Regions from separate parts of the Homo sapiens genome. Here regions 2 and 3 are each reported to be linked to region 1. The links are microRNA targets in miRTarBase. Many come from high-throughput screens and were not tested one by one. Region 1 holds a microRNA gene; each other region holds the end of a gene's coding sequence.
What was found. Region 1 holds the annotated microRNA hsa-miR-3928-3p (GGAGGAACCUUGGAGCUUCGGC, at 2,172-2,193, opposite strand). A microRNA usually pairs through its seed, bases 2 to 8, with sites in the 3' UTR of a target mRNA and lowers its output. Matches are read on the target gene's strand: a 7mer-m8 pairs with bases 2 to 8, a 7mer-A1 pairs with bases 2 to 7 and ends in A, and an 8mer does both.

Region 2: the mRNA of TBC1D2B is a reported target of hsa-miR-3928-3p. Seed matches in the 3' UTR shown: 7mer-A1 at 1,157-1,163 and 7mer-m8 at 3,353-3,359.
Region 3: the mRNA of STC2 is a reported target of hsa-miR-3928-3p. Seed matches in the 3' UTR shown: 7mer-A1 at 4,597-4,603.

What each region holds. Positions count from the first base shown.
Region 1 is chr22:31,157,891-31,165,006 of GRCh38, forward strand. It overlaps MIR3928 (microRNA 3928), which reads right to left and starts at 2,229; the gene lies at 2,172-2,229. It overlaps RNF185 (ring finger protein 185), which reads left to right and starts at 2,292. Exons shown (of 7, transcript NM_152267.4): 1 at 2,292-2,413.
Region 2 is chr15:77,992,065-77,999,180 of GRCh38, reverse strand. It overlaps TBC1D2B (TBC1 domain family member 2B), which reads left to right. Exons shown (of 13, transcript NM_144572.2): 13 at 826-4,196. The coding sequence ends at 1,021. It overlaps LOC91450 (a long non-coding RNA gene), which reads left to right and starts at 4,956. Exons shown (of 1, transcript NR_026998.1): 1 at 4,956-5,948. It also overlaps the pseudogene ADAMTS7P3.
Region 3 is chr5:173,311,479-173,318,594 of GRCh38, forward strand. It overlaps STC2 (stanniocalcin 2), which reads right to left. Exons shown (of 4, transcript NM_003714.3): 4 at 3,245-6,771. The coding sequence ends at 6,369. Among named protein-coding and RNA genes, the nearest start is that of MIR12118, 11 kb to the left of the region's middle. RefSeq lists an enhancer at 5,379-6,578.

The DNA.
Region 1 (7,116 bases):
AAAGTGTTACAAAGGACACATAGGATTTGGGCTTGCATTAGGTGATTTGGACGAGGGCTTAAGAAAATGGGGTTTTCTGGATTGGATGCTGCCTATGAGTGAGTACCTTGATAAACATTATTTAGAAGGAGGGAAGAGTAGACCGAGGCTAAATCTATAATCTCTATACAAGCCAGAATAGGGAAATGTTTGGCCATTTTTGTAGTTCGAACAATGCTCATGTTTTGTCTGGGTTTAGACATGATTCAAGTGGTTTTGTTATTGTCTTGATCCATCATGGTCACATAGTGGCTTTGTTTGATGTTGATGTTCTGTGAAGTTTTTATGTTCAATAAGAGAACACACCAAGGTCTATTTGTGAGTGCCAGACCATCTCCTGGATGTCAGGGGCTGTTTTTCTCTTAGCGCTTGGTTTCAAATCCAGGTTTGTGTGACTGGAAACATCCCTTGTATTACTTCTTGATCACAGGAACTTGCAAAGGTGGCTGGCAGACTAGGACTTTCATCTATGAGCTTATTTCATCTACTATTTTTTATTTTTTTTTCTGAGATGGAGTTTCACTCTTGTCGCCCAGGCTGGAGTGCAATGGCACGATCTTGGCTCACTATAACCTCTGTCTCCTGGGTTCAGGCAATTCTCCAGCCTCAGCCTCCCAAGTAGCCGGGATTACAGGTGCCCGCCACCACGCCTGGCTAATTTTTGTATTTTTAGTAGAGATGAGTTTCACCATGTTGGCCAGGCTGGTCTCGAACTCCTAACCTCAGGTGATCTGCCTGCCTCGACCTCCCAAAGTGCTGGTATTATAGGCGTGAGCCACCGCGCCGGCCTTTATCTACTATGTTCACCTCCTACTCAGGTCCGATCCCTAACCGTTCCTGGGATAACTGTAGGTACTTAATAAATGCTTGTTGAATGAATGAAGATGGCTGTCAAGAACTCCAATGACTGCTTGAGTGCAAATCACAAGCTCCATCACCTATCAGTATGTGATTTGATACAATATGTATTAACAGCTAATCCACAATCCATATTCAAATTTCATTACTTGTCCCAATATTGTCCATTACAACTATTCCACCACCACCACTACCCCAGTCCAGGGTCCTATTTAGAATCACACACCACATTTTGTTGTCATGCTTCTTTAGTCTCCTTTAAACTGGAACAGTTCCTCAGCTTTTCTCTGTTTTTCATGACAATGAGTTATTTTGTAGACAGTGTCCTTCATTTGGGGTTCTCTAGCACTTCCTCATGAGATGTGTACGGTGCACTTTTGACAGAAATACCACAGATGTGTTCTCAGTGCATTTTATTAGGAGGCCCTTGATCTGACCCATTAACTAGTGGTGTTAACTTTGATCACTTTGATCTGTTTGTTCTGCTAGGTTAAACCTCTGTAACATCACCATTTTCCCTTTGTAATCAATAGCTAATTTATGGGAGACACTTTTGCTGTTGTAAACATCCCGTTTCTCTAGTTTTACCACACATTATTGATTTCCTAATTCCACCATGTTTATTAGCTAGCATTCTACTAAAAGGAAGACTTTCCCTTCACCCATTAATATGCTCACTTCTTTATGTTTGTAAAGACTCATGGATTACTATTTTATTCAATTAGTTATACTCTATTACTATCACTCCATATTTTGATTCTGAAATTGCCCTGACTTGGCCAGTAAGATCTCCTTAAAGACAGCTCCTGTGTTCTTTGACACATTCCCATGATTCTTATTACCATCATCCTTATATTCTGGTGTAACAAGATGTTCCAAGTTTATCTGGTACTTTCCGGAATGAGTTAGTTCTTTCTCTCTCTCTTTTTTTTTTTTTTTTTTGACGGAGTCTCACTCTGACGCCCAGGCTAGAGTGCAGTGGTGCGATCTCAGCTCACTGCAACCTCCGCCTCCCGGGTTCAAGCGATTATCCTGCCTCAGCCTCCCGAGTAGCTGGGATTACAGGTGTGCGCCACCACGACCGGCTACTTTTTGTATTTTGAGTACAGAGGGGTTTCACCATTTTGGCCAGGCTGGTCTCGAACTCCTGACCTCAAGTGATCCATCCGCCGCGGCCTCCCAAACTGCTGGAATTACAGGTGGGAGCCACCGCGCCCGGCCGGAATCAGTTTTTTTCTTTTAGGAGCCCCGAACCCAAAGCTCTTTGAAAAGCTGCCGAAGCTCCAAGGTTCCTCCGCTTCCTGCCCGCAGGCGGAACCTTAGAGCTTCAGCCATGGAAATTAACCTCTTCCGGTTGGGGCCGGAAGTCCCTCCGAGAGGGGCGGCTCCGCGTCATGTGACTGGAGTCCGCGTAGGAGGGGTCGGAGGTCTTACCCAACAGATTGACGCGGCGTTAGTATTGGCCGTGTACCCGAAAAACTGATTGACTGGGCTGGCGTTAACTGTGCGGAGGCAGGTATGTGAGGGGCTGGGGTTGGGGCGGGGGCGCCAAAGTTTAGGGACGGGGGCGGGAGACCCGGGTCCGCCTTCCCAGGACACACGGGCTTGAACATCTGAGCCCAGGGGCCCAGAGACAGCAAGACCGGTCGTGTCTGTCCCCGAAAAGAGGACGAGCTGGCGTTGTGGTTCTGCGTCCCATGAATACAGATTGGGGAAACTGAGGCCTTGCGAAAGAGAAGGGCTCCCACAAGCTCTCCTTTCGAGGCATGGGCACTGATTCCCATTCTATCCCCCGTGCGAGACCGCCTCTATCATCTGGGAGTGCATTTCACGAGTTTGCCCTGAGTGGAGAAGCAGAGGCCGGGGAGCGCGGTGAACAGAGTTGGGCTGAAAGTAAGAGACCTGGATTCGAGACTTCGCCACCGACAGACAATTGTGCGTTCTGGGCCAAATCTCTTCCCTGTGCTGGGCCTCAGTTTTCTCGTCTCTAAAACGGGGCAGTGTTTTTCAAAATATGGTTCTTACACCATCTGCTTTGTAATTCTCTGAGATGCCGGCTTTACAGCGCGGGACTCAATTCAGACTTCTGGTTTAGAATCTGAACTTATGCGTAGGGGGGTCCTGTATATACTAATGTTTGAAGCTCATTGATTTTAAGTGCTTTCCTGCTGTGAGCACTAGATATCCATTCTTCGCTTTGAGGCAGCTGGTGCCAGTTCAGGAACTTTGAAAGAACTGGAATGGTTAGCTCAGTAAAGAGAGCACTGGAAGGGAATTAACTTTTTAAAAATTGAAAATACTGTTACGGCAAAGAGGGCTTCCACTTCATCTTTAGGCTAAAAGAGGCAGAACTAGGACTAACAGGTGAATTCTACAGGAAGGCAAGATTTTTGCTTAATAGAAGAACTTAAATGGAAGAATCGTCAGAGGTGACCACCGATGGAGTGAATGGATTGCCTCCGTGCCTCCTTTCGAGGGAGGTATATAGGTATTAGATGAAGGTCCTTTCCAACTTGAAAGTCTGTGATTCCAAGGAGTTGTTCTGCATCTTTCTGGTGCTGACTCTGCTCTCAAGGCAAATGTGACTTTTTTCTTCTCTTTTGACACTTCCATCACTTTAGCCTACATCTCCTGTAAATAAGGCCAATGCATCTGACCTTACATAATCTCTTCCTGGTTGTCCTGTGCACCATCCTTCTTTTCAAGGACTTTGGAATGACCCAATATCTGATAGAGGCACCTTAAATGTTTATTGAATGAATAAGTAAACTGGGTCCCACCCCATGGGTTAGTAGCTTTTTTCTAAGAACAAGTTGGAAATGCCTCTGAAGATTTTATGTTTGACCAGGAGAAGCCAGTGAACTCTGAATCACAAAATTGAGGACTCTCAGTTGAAAGCACCCCTTGAGGTTGTTCAGACCAGCCTTCTCTTCCCTGGAACATAATCCCTGCTTGAATCCTCTCTTCAGCAATATGTGTATAGATGTGAGAGAATTTTTGCAGTCTGTTGGCTAGCTTTCCATGCATCATATAAAAACAGTCCTCTTATAGACTTGACTTGCCAGTTCACACACATGACAAGTTCCAGCTTTTTTTTTTTTTTTTTTGAGTATTTAGTAGAGATGGGGTTTCACCATGTTGGCCAGGCTGGTCTCGAACTCCTGACCTCAAGTGATCCGCCTGCCTCAGCCTCCCAAAGTGCTGGGATTTCAGGTGTAAGCCACTGTGCCTGGCCTCTAGCATACCTTTGGTTTTCTAATCAAACATTATTATGTCCTTATTTTGTGCATTACAAAGCTCTGCCTAAATCACTTTTTCAACACCTGCTAGAATGCTTAGGAATGTTTATGTTGTCTTAGGGAGCAGAGGCTCCATATTATGACCCAGTTCTGCTGACTTGCTCCCCCGCCGCCACAAAAGTTAGGGTTGAGCCAAAACTTCCTGCCAGTTATCGACTTGTGTTTCCCAAGATTAAAAAATAAAAAAGTTGTGAAATGCTTATTCAGATGTTATCCAGGTACTGGGTAAAATGATCTTAATTTGTTGGAGTTTTTAGAACTTCTCGATCTAAAAGTTTCCTTTTAAAGAAGTGTCTGAATTGACATTCTCATAAGTATGTTCTTCAGGCCACTGGTCTGAAGAAGTGGCTCTGAAAAAAGGATTTGATGCTAATAATAAGTTTGAGAAAGCCACATACCATTATTCTTTCTTGGAGCTTCTCAATGTGTAATACCACATTAAAACCACTGAGAGGTCCTGCAATAAGGAAATGTGCCTTATAAGCCAAGATAATAACTTGTTCCATTTGTTTAATCTACTTGATGTCAAATCTTTTTTTTTTTTTTAATTGAAGCACACGTTAGCAAATTCTGACCTAGAGTGGGGATCTGCATACTATATATAGGCTGTGAACCAAACCTGGACCTACTGCTTGTTTATATGGTCTGTGAGCTAAGGGTGCTTTTTACATTTTTCTTTCTTTTTTTTTTTTTTTTAAGACGGAGTCTCGCTCTGTTGCCCAGGCTGGAATGCAGTGGCTCCATCTCAGCTCACTGCAAGCTCCGCCTCCTGGGTTCATGCCATTCTCCTGCCTCAGCCTCCCGAATAGCTGGGACTACAGGCGCCCACCCCGATGACTGGCTAATTTTTTGTATTTTTAGTAGAGGTAGGGTTTCACTGTGTTAGCCAGGATGGTCTTGATCTCCTGACCTCGTGATCTGCCCGCCTCAGCCTCCCAAGGTGCTGGGATTACAGGCGTGAGCCACCACGTCTGGCCTGCTTTTTACATTTTTAAATGATGGGAAATAAAAGAAGAATAATATTACATAGGTGACAATTACAGGAAGATAAAATTTCAGTGTTCATTTCAGTCACACCCATTTATTTATATTCATATATATTTACATATTGTCTTTGGGTGCTTTAATGCTACTCAGTGGAGTTGATTACTTCCCATAAAAACCATATGGTCCACAGAGTCTGAAGTATTTACTCTATGGCCCTTTATGGAAAAAAAATTGCCAATTCCTGACCTGCATCGTGTACATTTTTTTTTTTTGAGACAGTGACTCGCTCTGTTGCCCAGGCTGGAGTGCAGTGGCACGAACATAGCCTACTACAGCCTTGACCTCCTGGGCTGAAGCCATCTTCCCACCTCAGCCACCCGAGTAGTTGGGACTACGGGCACACACCACCACACCCAGCTAACTTTTAGGTTTCTTGTAGAGATGAGGTCTCACTATGTTGCCCAGGCTGGTCTCAAATCTCCGAGCTCAAATGATTCTCCTGCCTCAGCCTCTCAAAGTGCTAGGATTACAGGTATGAGCCACCACTCCCAGCCATGTATTGTTTTTTAACTTTTTATTTTATTTTATTTATTTATTTATTTATTTATTTATTTATTTGAAACGGAGTCTCACTCTGTCCTCCAGGCTGGAGTGCAGTGGCGCAATCTCGGCTCACTGTAACCTCCACCTCCCGGGCTCAAGCAATTCTCCTGCCTCAGCCTTCTGAGTAGCTGGGACTACAGGTGCACGCCACCTTGCCTGGCTAATTTTTGTATTTTTAGTGGAGACGGGGTTTCACCATGTTGGCCAGGATGGTCTCAATCTCCTGACCTCAAGTGATCCACCCACCTCAGCTTCCCAAAGTGCTGGGATTACAGGCTTGAGCCACCGTGCCTGGCCCCTTATTATTATTATTATTATTTTTTAGATGGAGTTTCACTCTTGTTGCCCAGGCTGGAATGCGGTGGGACAGTCTCAGCTCACTGCAACCTGTGCCTCCCAGGTTCAAGCGATTCTCCTGCCCCAGCCTCCCAAGTAGCTGGGATTACAGGCATGTGCCACCACACCTGGCCAATTTTTGTATTTTTAGTAGAGGTGGGTTTCACCGTGTTGGCCAGGCTGGTCCTGAACTCCTGACCTCAGGTGATCCACCCGCCTTGGCATCCCAAAGTGCTGGGATTACAGCCGTGAGCCACTGCGCCTGGCCTTTTTATTTTGAAATAATTTTACTCTTATACTAAACTTGCAAAAATAATTCACAAACTTTCTGTATATCTGTCATCTAACTTCACCTAATGTCAAAACTGTACATAATTATATCAGAATTATCCAAACAAGAAATTTAACATTAATACAATATTACTAGCTAATCTAGAGACTTTATTCAGATTTTGCTATTTGTCCCACTGTGTCCTTTTTCTGTTCCAGGACCCAATCCTGGATCCTACATCACATTTAGTTGTCAAGTCTCCCTGGTCTCATCAGATATCTGGGACAGTTCCTCATTGTCTTTTTTTTTTTTTTTTTTTTTTTGAGACGGAGTCTCACCCTGTCACCCAGGCTGGAATACAGTGGCATGATCTCAGCTAACTGCAACCCCCCTCCCGGGTTCAAGCGATTCTCCTGCCTCAGCCTCCTGAATAGCTGCAATTACAGGCGTGTGCCACCATGCCCAGCTGTTTTTTGTATTTTTAGTAGAGTGGGGTTTCACCATGTTGGGCAGGCTGGTCTTGAAGTCCCAACCTCAGGTGATCCACCTGCCTCGGCCTCCCAAAGTTCTGGGATTACAGGTGTGCCACCACACCCGGCCTGCATTTGCACTAAAATTTATTTTTTTTTTAATTGTTTGTTTTTGAGATGGAATTTCACTCTTATTGCCCAGGCTGGAGTGCAGTGGCGCAATCTTGGCTCACCGCAACATCTGCCTCCCAGG
Region 2 (7,116 bases), not on the chromosome of region 1:
CATGTTGGTGGATACAAAGCATTTGGGGCCTGGCAGAATCCAGAGAGGGGAAGAAGGTGGCCCTAGGAACTGGCCTATTTTGTGATCCCCAGAGACCAGTGTGGCTGACCCATTAGTGCTACAAATCCATAGCCAGGCCTCAGGACAGCTTTTGGTCTTGTTTTTATTAAGCCACTGACCAGTGGTTAGGAGCAAGTGGATCATAACCTTAACATTTTTATTGAAAATTGGAGCCTTGACCTGGGGATGTGAAACCCACAAGCTGCACATTTCTCTGTAGACTGCATCTGGACACTTGTCACATTGCCAACTGGGTCTGACAGTCATCGCCAGGACTGCCTGGGCCTGTGTTCATTCCCAGTCAATGAGTCCTGGGACACAGACGTCCCGGACTCGTGCCCGGTGCCAGGCCTCATGCCCGCCCAAGGATGAAGACATACCTGCCATCACCATGCAAGTGCCGGGAGCTCTTCTCAGGGCTTATGTGTGGGAACACGAGTAATCCCACACCCTAGGAGGTGGCACTACTCTTACCCCAGTGTGCAGATGAAGATCAGAGGCCAGAAAAGGGGGGTGACTTCAGTCACACAGCAAGCATGTGGCAGAGCTGGAGTCCAGGTCGTCATTCTGAGCCTGCCCCTGGCTGGGCCATTGTGCTTTGTCACCTCTCTACAGAAGGTGGGCCTCATCCCCTACATCAGGCCCCAAGCCTGGCCAGCGCTCTTCCCACCCTGCCCCAGGCCACCTGCTATGCCTGTGAGGGCTGTGTGTGAGCACTCTCTGGAGCGCCGCTGATTCTCTTGTCTCTCCCCTGCGTCCTGCCAGGAAGCTGATCAGTATCTCCTTTGGGGACCTGAACCCTTTCCCCCTACGCCAGATCCGGAACCGACGCGCCTACCACTTGGAGAAAGTCCGGCTGGAGCTGACCGAGCTGGAGGCCATCCGTGAGGACTTCCTGCGTGAGCGGGACACCAGCCCTGACAAGGGTGAGCTGGTCAGTGACGAGGAGGAGGATACCTGAGTGGGCTCGGGATGCTGCTCTTCCTTCCTTCACAACCAAAGTGTGCCCAAAGGGTGAAAGTGCACTTAAAAGCCAGAATGTAACGTGTGTGTCCTCTGGGGATCTGCTGGGCAGATGTCCCAAGCCAGGCTGCCCTTCCTCATTTCCCACTGTGCGGGGGGCAGGGGTGGGAGGTCTAATCTGTTTACAACCATTTCCGTGCCATGCTTTTGGTTACACGTATCTCAGTCACGCTTTCTGCCTGGTTGGTGGATCCTCAGGCTTACCAGTGGCTATTTGCAAGAGCCTGTTTCCAGCCTCCGTCAGCCTGTCGGTGCTCTGACCCTCTGAAACCTTGCTTTGCTGGGCATCTCCCCATATTCTCTCTCCTGTACATAGTGGGCAGTGGTGTGTGGTTTTGAATGGCAGTGCTATAAAGGATGCCAGCTGTGCTTTAGGCACCTGTAGGCCAGAGGGTTGCTGCCTCAGGCATAAGGTTGGTATGAAAAGGGGCTGCCTTAGAAAAGCAGGCACATCCCTTGTTCAGAAATGGCCACTGTAGGAAAGCCTGTGAACCTCCCACCAGTGGCTTTAAGCTGCCAGCCATGCCCCATTTCTAGAATAGCCTTTGCTCTTCCACACGCAACCCTTCCATCAGTGTCTTCCAGCCTGCATGGGGAGGGCCTGGCTGCCCAGACACCCACCCTCACTTCTCATGGCCAGCCTGTGTTTGCAGATCACTGGGCTGCTCTGTCCCCAGCTTGCCCCGTGCCAGGCATGGCTCTGTGAGATTCTGTGGAATGCCCTTCTTGACTTGTGGAAATCATTCACCAAGTACGATGGGATGGGATTCCAAGTAAACAGTGGACCGTCATATTGCAAAGCAGGCCCACGCCTGGGCTGGCCTTGGTTGAGGGGATGGAGGAATGTTTTCGGGGGTGCTTTGCAGGGCAGTGGTGCAGCCGCAGCGTGAACGCTCTTGGACAGCTGAAAACCATGGCCTCCTTGGGGATGGCCAGTGCTCCTGGTGTCTCCACCTGCCTGGGTTGTGCAGGAGGCCGGCTGCCAGTGCCTGGGGCTGGGAAACTTTTTTGCTTGGGGCAGGCTTGGGTGAGCTCTCCCAGATGTGTGCCCACCCCACCACTGCCTGGAACATCCTTGTTCTCTGCCAGGATGCAGGGGCACTGTTGCCTCTGACACAGCAGTTTCTGGGAACTCAGAGGACTGCCTTTCTGAAGGCTGGGGAGAGGCTTTGAGCAAGGAGCTTGTTTTTGCTTAATCGCTCTAGACCATCCCTGATGCGTAGATGTGAGAGGATGTTTTCTGGCACAGTGTTATGAAAATACAAGATAAATGATCTCAGTGGAATGTTTCATATTACCCGAAAAAAACTGGAAATCATCCTTTGTTGTGAACACACTGAGACTAAGAATTGAAGCAATGCAGTTTTAAGAAGTATTTTTCCTATTTTTTGCTGTCAACTTTTTGGCAATGCCACGGCAAAGTTGGTGTTTCAGCACATGCTAGAGTGAGCTCCGGCTTCGTGTCTTTAACCAACTCCACTAATGTTTCACTGGGTAGACGGAGCTGGCCTCTATATTTAGCCAGAAGCCTTTGCCTCTTTTCAGGCATCAAAAATGGGTTTTGTCATTGTCTTTGTCTTTGAGAGCAGCAGTTTGAGGTCTGACTCCTTCAGTTGTCCTGTGAGCTGGGCGTTGCAGTCTGCTCGAATCAAGTGTTGGAACCCCCCCCACCCCTCAGCCCATCGTGAAACGACAGCTGTCAGCCTGGGGGGCGGCTGCTGAGGAGGTGCAGCAGGAATGGGGCTGGGCCCTGAGGTTTTACTTTCCGAGCCAATGGCCCCTGGAACATGCCAGCACACACTGCCATGTCCTGGGGCTAAGAGCTGCCTTTAGGGACAGGCTCGTGTTGTCCAGTTTGCCCTGAGAGATGCACCTGACCAGGGGCCCGTCGTGGCTGCAACCCACGGTGGTATGTTAGTGTTTCCAGGCAGTTGTCAGCAGCTGCCGGGCAGTGTGTGTGTGCGACAGCAGGAGAGTTCCTGGAGGAAAGGGACTGGGGACACTTTCTCAGAGGTTCTCCTGCCTGGAATCAAGTGATGCGTGTCCAGAAGGCAAGAGAGGGCGGCTCCGCCTGGTTAAAGTTTGGGAACGGGACGGAGCCAACTCCTCCTTCCAGGACTGTGGGCCCCACTCTTTTGCGCTAACACTTCCCCTCCCTCGGGTCACTGAGGAAAGAGCTGCTCTGTCCCCTCCAGTGCCCTGAAGGTCCCTGGCCTCCACTGGCTGCCATGGCAGGGGGCCCTTCTGACAGGGGCTGCCCCAAGCTGCTGTTCCTCCTCTGAACCTTCACCCCAACACCCAGCCCGTGGCCCCTGCAAGGGGGACCCTGCCAGCTGGGAAACCCAAAGGCCTGTCCAAACGTGCGCACCAGGACCGAGGGGAGCTCCCTCCCAACACCTGCTAGGAATTGCCAACTTTTAAATGGATGGGGTTTTTTATGGGTTGAACCTCTGTTAATACTTTTGTACACTCTCACTACAGTTTATATTTTTATAGGCTATTTTCTCAAGGTGTTTCTAGATTCCACATATCTATTTTATATAACAAGTTATTATGTTATGTGTGTGACTCCCTTGTGTGTATCTGTGCCAGCCTCAGCCTCCGAGTTGCTTTTCCCTCTGGCCCTGACTCTCACTGACTCACCGATGTGATGTGCAGGCCCACTTCTTACCCCAGATAGCCTCGGGCGCTGCCTGTAGTCATGCTGACAGCTGTACAGTAGCCGCCAAGACTGCTGACAGCTGGAGACGGTTCTGGTTTCAACTACGGTATATTGATATCGGAAGTATTCTAGACAGATCCTCGGTTGGGTTTTCTAGCTACATGTTTGTATTGCACAGATCCCCACCTGCCATCCTATAGTGTTGTCTTCCTGTGTGTTCCGGGGCTTCTGGGCAGCTGGGCCTGCCCGGGGAAGTCCTTGCAGGTGGGAGGCCATACAGAGACCCACTGTGTGCCACTGAACGTCCCACTGCTGCTGGGCAACTGGAGGACTGCAGGGGGCGCCAGGTGACTCTCTCCTTTTATATCACAGCAGCTCCTGTGCTGACCTTCAAGTTACGTTTTGGAACTGTAATACTAAAGGAAGAAATAAACTACTAATTTGTATAATATTCTGCATTGAAATTCAGTTATAGTCACTGGTGATGGGGCTCACCCCAAGGGCTTGGAGGGTGGGGCAGGGCTTATTGGTGTTGCGGGGGGCGAGGAGGGGCTCTCCAACCTTCCAGCCTGGCGTTTCTGGGTGTCTCTGCCCTTGGCTCACCCTGGGGCGGGTGCATCAGGATGCCTTTGCCAGCAGGGGCAGCCTTGGGAGGCCCCAAGAACCATGGCCAAGCTGCAGGTGTGGGCTGGGGGCACCGAGGTGGGAAAGCCGGAAGCTGGAGACTCCCTGTGTCCGGATAACCCCCCGCCCAGCCACAAAGAACAGGCATGCCTCCTTCCGCCAGCTGTGCCATGCCCTGCCTGAGTCACAGGCTTGTTTGTCTCCTGCCTGGGCTGACAGCTCAGGCCCAGCTGCCACTGGGCACACCCGCAGTCATCAGTGGAAAACACCCAAGAATGATAAAGACCAAAGGGGTTCCCATAGGGGTGTTTCGGGGTGGCTCCAGCAAGGATTCCCAGACAGGGCAGGCCAAGGCCTGGCAGGCTTTTCTCTTCTGCGGACATGGATTCAGCGAGGCTGGGGGTTCCTGGAGTCACGCAGCAGAGCGGCGGCGGCAGAGCTGGGGCAGAGCTGGGACAGGGACTGGCTCCGTGTGTGGGTCAGGAGCAAGTCGACAGGCCCTGCTCCCCACCCCTTGGAAGGGAGTGCCACCAGGGGCCGTTCTGACTAAGGCCTGGGAAGCCATGACTCAGAGCTTGGGTCCCTAGAGTCTCTTTGGGCCAGCCGGGCTGCTGCAGACAGACAGGAAGCACGCCTGACGCTCCTCTACCCTCGGGCAGCACAGCGGGGCTGGGACTCACTCTAGCTTGCCCAGCAACTTGCTTTCCTGTGTGAACTCTGGCAGGCTGCCCTCTCTGTGCAAAGCTGCCACTGGGGCCTGCTCAGGGTGGCCTGGAACTTGGAGGTGGGCAGTCAGGGCCTAGGATGGGCCTGTGTCACCAGGGCATGTGCCCTTGGGCCAGTTACTTCCTCTCAGAGCCTTGGGCTCCTCCTCTGAGGATGGGGCTTGTTGGTGTGAAATGAGGTGAGCATGTTGAGTTGGGGAGCAGCAGGACACGCACCTGCAGGCAGCCGCCCTGGCCACGCTCCCTCCCTACCTTCCGAGTCCTGGGACAGACACAGTAGAGCACAGCGGGCCAGCCTGCTCTCTTCTCTGTCTACTTTTTGCAGAAGAGTCAACAGATACAACAGGCCCAGGGAGGTGCCCCTGGGGGCCCCAGTCCCCATCACTCCAAGGGGCAGTCCTGCAAGTGACAAGGTGGGCCCAATCCCTGTGGAACAGGTCTCTGAGGACCACAGAGTGGGGCCCCAGGGAAAGCTGGGAGCCGAGCTAGAGGCAGGCAGCAAGTAAGGGCCAAGCTGTGCCCCTGCCCGGAAGACCTTCCTGCCCCCAGAACCCGACCCTCCGCAGATAGCCCTCCCTGGGCAGCAGCCCCCCAGCTTCCAAGGCCCGTGCCTCACCAGACGCCATGCTCTCACGGACTTGTTTGCTGCTCTGTACCCTGCAGATCTGCCCCAGAGGAGCAGGTGAAAAGCCGCGCCTGCCGAGGTGCTGTGGCGGTGGAGTTTTGGGCAGAGGAGTGGGGGGAAGAGTTTCTCACTTTTAAGATTCTCCAAATCCAAGATGAAGTCATGCTGTGCTTTGGAATGGTAGATGCTCATTTATGTAAAATCATAATAAATGTTACACAAACTGTTAGAATAAAAAAATACTTTTTTTGAGGGGGGAGGAGGTCCCCAGCCTGCCGCTGGATAGTGAGAGGGGGTTAGCACCATTAGGGCGTAGGGCGTAGGGCGTAGGGGGCAGGAGCTCCGCCACAGCCCATGGTGGGCACTGAGGTCTGTTGGTCGGTCTGTGCATCCTGGCACGGTCAGTGGCAGGCAACCCGCTGATGGCCTCGGGAGCGGGCGCCGTGGCTGGGCGGAGAGCACGAGCGGCAGCAGTGGGTGCGGACAGTGGGCAGCTGGCAGCAGCCCACTAGGTGCAGCGTCTCGCAGAACCTGAAGGACAGGTGGTCCCGCTTATAGCCTGGAGTGGGGGGAGTGGGGGGAGTGGGGGGAGTGGGGGGGAGTGGGGGGGGAGTGGGGGGGAGTGGAGTGGGGGGGGAGTGGGGGGGAGTGGGGGGAGTGGGGGGGCGGGGGATTGGGGGGGGTGGGGGGGCGGGGGGGGCATCAGAACCTGGCTCCCCACCCCAACCACCTTAAGGAGGCTCCAGCAGCTCCCCACCAAGCAGAGTGCCCCGGTTTCAAGGTCACACGTCTCCAGCTGTTGCTATTTCTGTCCCACCTGCTCATGGCCAACCCCAGGATTCAAGAACGGGCGCTGCTGGGCTGAAGTTTCTGGAGGAAAGGTCTTGAGACCCCACCCTGACCCCCTCACATGCCCATAAAAGAGCCTGCCCAGGGTGACACCCTGCCACCCCATCTCCATACTTGCTCACCCCTGGTATTCCCCGACAGATCCTGGCACAGAACTGAGGTCCCAGGGGCCTCCTGCCAGCCTGCAGCAACCTCTGCCGTCCACTCCCGCCACCTCCCCCTGCTCCAGTGCACCTATCCTGCCAGGCCTCTGTGACCACCTCCAGCCACGGGGGCTGTACACAGCCTCGGGTTCTGAGTCACAGGGTCCCATCTCCCAGGCCAGCCTCCCACTTCTCAGGTGGGCCACAAAGCCTAGAGTGAGTGGGCCTTACAGGCCATCAGTGGAAACCAGGGACTGAGCCCAGGCCCAGTGGGGAGGGAGGCCAGCTGCAGGCTGTGCTTGTCAGGGCTGAGGCTTGGCTGGGCCCTCCTGCCCCATGGTTATCAGAGCTATTTTGGGATGTGGCTTGTTTCCAGCCTCCTAGCCTTGCTCCTGCTGCTGCCGC
Region 3 (7,116 bases), not on the chromosome of region 1:
GTAAAAAGCATGAGGCAGCTCATCCCATCCGTGATCTTGGCTTTAGGCCACTGTCTTCTGAAATGGCCGAGAGAAATAACCACCACCCTTTACGTGGCATGTCATCGTCTTCAAAGCATTTCCTAGGCTTTGTGACTTTTTATATAGCTTAAGTCATTTTATCTTCAACTGCCCTCCATCCCCCTGAGAAAAGCAGGATAGCTGTTGGTTTCCTTATTTTGTAGCTAAGGAAACAGGCTTAGAAAATGGAACCGATTCGCCAAGGTCTCAGGGCCAGTCCTGATTTTTTCAGTCATTAGTTATATTTCCTTCTTATCCCCAAAGAGATTTACCTGGTGCAAGATGAGTAGGTGGCTGGATTGGTACCCCTGTCTATGTCTCCTGACTTCAAAATTACAGGCTTCCCAGCGATTTTTAATTTTGACACCCTCTCACTGATTCTATGACATGTTGATCCCTTGTACAAGGATGCAAGGATATATTTGCTTTAGAAGTTAAAGTAAATTGAAACTCATCTGATTTGACATTTTGGCACCATTTTAGACAAGAGGTTTCTTTCATTCATTCGTTCATTCATTCATTCACTCACACCGAGCAATGGCAGAGCTGCTGGGGATACAGGCAACTGTGTACAAAAAATGACATAGCCTCTGTCCTCATGGAGTTTAGAACCTGTGGTTCTTATAGTACCAAGGGTGAAAACAGCTTAGATTTGAAGAGTATGGTGTAAGATCCTCCAGCCTGTCTTGAGGGAAGCCAGTCACTATGGAAGAAGTGAGACTACCCCCGGACGGCCATGCTCTGACAGGCCTCGGGGGATGAGGCACCACAATGGGGACTGTGGGAGAGGTGGGACGGGAGAAGAGAGGAGGCCTGGAGCACCGAGGCACCATCTTGGGAAGGTCATCTTGGAAGTGGATCCTCCAGCCCCGGTTGCCCCAGCCACCACCATGTGAAGAGTCTAACCACCCTTTCCAAATTTCTGACCTGTAAAATTATGAGCAAAATAAAATAGTTGTTTTATACCTACTAAGCTTCAGGAGTAGTTTTGTTAAACAGCAATAAACATCTGGGACAGAATTCTAGGGACTGATCATTCTTTCTGAACAAAGCCCTCTTTGGAGCCCTTGGCCCTTTGCAGAACATTATTCATATCTCAGGGGACAAGCAGGTGGTCCCTGTCCTCTTTAGCATGCCACTGCTTTTTTACATGTGCATTCCCCCTTAGTTTTAAGAACCATAAAAATTCCTGGAATTTATCGAATGGGAAACGGAACCAGCTGATTCTCCTCATTACCTTGTGAACAATACCCTGCCTCTGAGAATTCCATGTAGGAGCTTTCCTTGTTTCTCCCAAGTTTTAGCTCAGGCGTGATGTTCAATGGTGGCAAGGTGGTTACAGATTCTAAGGTGCCATGAGATCTGGGTTCATCCTGGTGTGGAGTCCATTTCATGCATAAGCCTAGGTTGGCTTTGTGACTTTTTTTTTTCTGTACTCTTTGGGAAGTGACTTTTTTTTGTTGTTCTTTTTGGGGAGTGATAAAAACTGAACTGCTTATGCAAGCAGCAACACGGGACTCCTAGCCCAAGGCTTCTATTGCTCTTTTCTTCTCTTCTCCACCCACAAAAAATAATTCACATAAAAACTGTTCTCTGGCCAGGGGTTGTCGCCTCCTCAGCAGGGGGCTTTCTTTTTTGTTGACTTTAGAACCAATTTGGTTTTCTGTGTCCAGATTTTGGGGTGCATAGATCCAGCTTCCTTTGGAAACTCTGCTTAAATCCCAGCATATTTGGAAGCTCTCTGACTTCTTCCTCCCACAGCCTAATAATTCCAGAACAGTTGGATTGGAACAACCTTGGGGCTTAGAGGGAGGCAGCTGAATTTCTCGACTCATTTGGGTGCATTTAACCCATGTGTTCACACTTGGAGTGCAAGAAGACAAGGTGGAGGGGTGCATTTGCATGCTGACTCTAGAGCTCACTAGCCTTGTGACTGGCTCCAGGCATATTAAATGTCATGAAGCCTCAGTTTCTTTATCTTTAAAATGGGTTTCAGAAATAATATCCCTAAAGCACCAGGCAAGGCACGGAGCACATCATGGGTCCCCAGGAATCTGCAGCTGTCCTGATGAGGGTGATGATGTTGGTGAAGGGTTTGGAGGAGGCTGGCTTCTCAGAAAGGTGATGGGGTGAGTTTAGTGAGGAAAGCTCCAGCTGCATGTTTCAAGAAAACCAGATGCTCCCCAAATGCTTTCCCAGTGGTGCATGAGAAGAATCTTATAAAAAATTATCCACATGCAAAGAAAAATGAGGAGGCTCCACGATTCTCCTGCTTTCCTTATCGGAACCAAAATTTGAGTCTTTGCAGAGAGTAAAGGTGAGAGCATTAACTTTCCTTTCCATTTTGAAGCAGAACTCCTTGGAGGCCTGGAACTATAAATGTAAGAGTATAATTATTCTTTCCCCAAGCCTCGTGTAAAATAGGCATAACACTGATTGGTTTAACTTAAAAATAAATTTAAAGTGGAGATTCTAGGCCTGAAGTAGGGGAAGGTGTGTGGGCTTAGGAGTCCTGATCTGAGTTTGAGTTCAGACCCCACCCCACTCACTAGCCACACAGTTTGGGACAAGTCTGTACCTCAGTTTCTTCACCTGTAGAATGAGGATAATACCTATTATTTGTGGGATGTAATGAGGATGAAATAATGCATGCAAAATGCCTACTGTGGTGCCTGGAACATAGTAGGTACACCAACAGTGGCACAGATCACGTAAACCAGGGGCTCCAGCTCTGTTCTGCTGTCGTGAGCAAGAGCTGGGGAGGAGGCAGTGGGCTTCCCTCTATATGCCAGGCCACTCAGCTGTTAAGCTGGTGGTGTCTGCTGCAGGCTCAGTCTGAGAGAAGGGGTGGCCAAGCCACAGGGGAGACTCACAGGGGAGACTCAAAGGTGAGACCAGAGTGAGCCTTAAGGACCTGCCTAATGGGGTGTGGGGGTGGCACTTCCAGGCCAACTGCATGAAATTTATTCTCCTCCTTGTCTGGGTGACTCAGGCAGGGGCTTGGACAGGGTCCCTCTGACGGAGAAGCCTAGGGTAGTCCTCTTCATCTAACTTCCTTCCCTGTAGGCTGAACATCCACAGAAGCATAGGATTCTCTTGACGTAAAAGCCCACTTGCTCACAGCTGTCCCCCTGTGCACCGGACATCAATGACCCTCTCAGACAATGACGCTACTCAAGTGGAAGCCATTTATTTAAAACTTTTATTAACGCTTGAAGAAAAATAATGCAATGTGACAATGTACAGGTCCTGTTGCCTAAATCCGTAGTAGAAACAGATATTATCACTTAGCAAGCTCACGTGGTGCCAATTCTGAGATCAGACGGGGTTGTTCCTCCTTAGGAAGTGGCCACTGGAAGCATTGTTTTTCCATGCTATTTCCGTGAAGCCTTTTGCTTGGTTCGAGTTTAAATTTCTCCCTTTGTGTGAGTATGACTATAGTTCTGGCCTGGTGTTTTCTATTTATTTAGTTTTAGATGTCAGCATTTTACTATACTTGGTCCTCTCACTTCAGAATAACAGGGCTATTTATTGATACAAAGGAGAGGTGTTCAGATCATCTTGTTAAGATGCAGAGCTCAAAATAAACACTAAATCTTTATTTGGAGATCCACATCCTTCCTCAAAGGAAGGCTCATGAGTAAATTTGTATGCAGTATAAAGCCCAAGTAGAGGGTGTATTTTTAATGACTACTTTGCTTACATTTTAGATTGTGCAAATGTCTCAATCAATGCTTGCAGGAATGTGGACCTTCCTCAGTTTTAAGCAGAAGACCCTGAGCAATAAATACTGTTGCATGCTTCCAATAACGTGAGGGATGGGATAGAAATGCTATCTACCCGACTTCTGAGGAGAAAACAAAGCAGTGGCATGAAAAATATACAACAGAGATCAGTAAATGGGTTCAAATGAACACAGTAAACCATTTTATGCCTTAGGGGGAAAACACAGAGATAATAAATACAAATGACAAATATTTACAATAGAAGCAACGAATGGGATCAGTAGGCGAACACATAAAACATTTACACGGAGGAAAATGGAAATGTGATGCCTTTCACACATCCAGTCCAGGAGCTGGCGGACAAATGAACAGCTGACTCAGCAACGCAGGAGAATGTTATTGCTTTAGCTTTTGAGTGATGTCAGTAAAACAGTCAACGTGCCTGCCGCGGTGGCTCACTGCAGGAGACAGCCACGGTTTACACTCGTTCCCATGGCAGAGCCTGACACACAGGTCCTCCTCCCCCCAAGGGCAGAGCTGGATTAAGTGCACCAGCTCTTCTGTTCTCTGCAGCCCCAGATCTTGCTGGGTGCCCAGGGAGCCCGGTGGCGGGGGCTGGAGGTGGGGTTTCCTCCCTTCCCCCAACCAATGATTCCCCTCCCCACCCAACCGCCGGCATGGATCATGAAAGACTGGGATTGGATTTGGGGCATAGAAATACTAGCTGTGTTTTGGTTGAAGGCATTCCCCAGGAACAAGTCATTTTAGAGCAGATACGCTTGGTTTCTTGGTGTCTGGCCTCAGGTTGCCTTGAGGAAGAGCTGATGAGTTGACGGATAAGGATGCATATGCTTTTTGACCCACTCACTAGAACAGAGATCAGTAAACTGTGTCCTGTGAGTGAAATTCAGCTGGGAGCCTGTTAAATAAATCTTCCTGGAAGGGAGCCAAGCCCTCTCGTTTGTGTGTTGTCTATGGCTGCTTTTGTGCTAGGACGGCAGAGTTGAGTAGTTTCGACAGAGACCTCACGGCTCGCCAAACTGAAAGTACTGGATTCAGTATCTGGCCCTTTGCAGACAATGTTTGCTGACCCCCTACTCCAGAAGAGCCCAGCCCAGAATACCCGGCCACTCCCTACAATACCAGCTCCTGCTTGAGAAAGGATAGGCTTTAATTTGATGGCCAATTAGGAAGAAAAGGCCTATTTAGGTGATGTTTTAAATAACCCAAGAAACCCACTGCTGAGACTTTTAATGAAAATCCTCACTCTCCTTTCCTCGTATTTTTAGTTCTGTCTCTTCTCTCTGCCTTTATTTGTCCCCTTGGACTCCTCTCCTTATTGCTAAATTTCCAATTAGGATCTGGAAAATCCTGTCCCTTAGAGATTTTCAGCAGTCTCCTTGATTTTATGTAAAAGGTCAGCATTTCCTGATGGGAATTACTAAGTAGTCTTCATTCTCTTCTTTCCTTTCCCATCCCCTCACATGGAGAAGCCAGGTTTCCAGCTGGGTCTCCTGGAATCGCCAGGACGCAGCTTTACCAATCTTGGCTGAGGGTCAAGGTGAGATAACGAAATCCTAAGGGAAATTTGTCAAATGTACTCCCCAGGTGTGTATTTTCCTCTGGGTATAAGGTTTCCCCCAAGTGGGCAGGAGTCCATGTCAGGCAGTCAGATGTATGGCTATGTCGCTGTTTGATAGCTTTTAAAATAGAACTTAAAAAAAAGAAAAATCAGCCTCAAAGGATGGGCTGGTTTTTTTTTTTTAAACCCCCTTTGAGCTGGTTTTAATGACCCAGTTGCTTTGTTTGAAAGCCATTTATTTAGATGACAGATATGTAGATATAACTGGATAAATAAAAAAAGTGAAATCGAGATTTGAAGCAGTGGTTAAAATATAAACTCATAGGGGCCACTCCCTTGGACAGTGTCCCCCCCAGCCCAGACAGTACAATGGCTCAGAAATTACACATAGAAATGACACTCCTCCCTCCACCCTCGCCAAGAGCTCTGAACCGCAAGGCCCCACACAAGAAACTGAATTTCAGTTTGGCACCAAGCACCCCCTCGGCCCCTGCCTCCTCTCCACCCTTCTCCTGCATTCTAAGCGATATTTATTTTTACATTCACTCCTGTCCTGGAATCCAGCCGCCCTGACTTCCGCGGAGACAGCACCAGAGGCTGCTGCACCAGAAGCTTCGGGGCGAGGCCCAGCACCCACTGTGTGGCCCAGCTCTGGGGGCCCTGCCTTGCCCTGCCCCTCCCTGGTTCACCTCCCCCACAACAGAGCGGCCGACACCCACTGACTCCACAGATGGAAAGAAGACAAAGGTACGAGGATAACGCGGGCGCGCTCCCTTGAGTACGTGTAAGTGCAGAATTCACCAGGCACCCCTGAGACCCCACGGCCCCAGGGGTCTCCATCTCACCTGTCCGTTCCGCGAACACACACCTCGATGAAGTCCACAGTCCCCACAGAATCCTGCGTGTGACATCCCCCCTCTCTAATGGTAAATGTTTTGGAATGTCCATAGATAAGAAAATGGACGGCGTGGAGGAAAGATTTCGTGGCCAGGCCTTTCATTTCACCTCCGGATATCAGAATACTCAGACTGTTCGTCTTCCCACTCGCTGCTTCCGGAAGGTCCCTGAGCCCCAAGGCCCCCGACTCTGCCTCGGGCATGGGCGTTTGGGTGGCTCTTGCTACCTCGCTCACCCTTGGCACCTCGGCCAGTCTCCCTACTGCTGGGCTCTGGGAGGTGATGTCCTGCTTCCCCGTGGTGGGCCCTGGAGAGCTTGGTTCTGTCCACCTGGGGCTGGCGCTCGGGGGGCGCCGTGGGAGGCTTCTGGATGGCCGAGGTGCAGAAGCTCAAGATGGAGCACAGGCTTCCCCAGTTCTGCTCACACTGAACCTGCACGCTGTGGGTGATGGCCTCCTTCACCTCCTCCCCACAGGTCAGCAGCAAGTTCACGAGGTCCACGTAGGGTCTAAAGATTGAAAGCAAAGAGAGAGAGAGAGAGAGAGAGAGAGAGAGAGAGGCTGGGAATGGAGCAAGTCCCGAATGGACCACAGAGGGCAGGGGCAATGCTGGGAAGGAGGCATGGCCAGTGCTTGTCTTGGGTTCGGTGGAAGATCTCTCTCAAATGACTTCAAGCCTTTTCTCATAGTCTATGGAGTACTGGCCTCAACCAACACTTATTGGGTGGCCACTGTGTCCCAGGCTCACAGGTGCATAGGGTAAGAGCTTAGGACCCTAAAAGGAAGACCCTCTGGGGATGGTGAGAAATCCAGGTGGCTGCGTGAATAATGGCAGGAGAGCTCTGGGTGCCTTT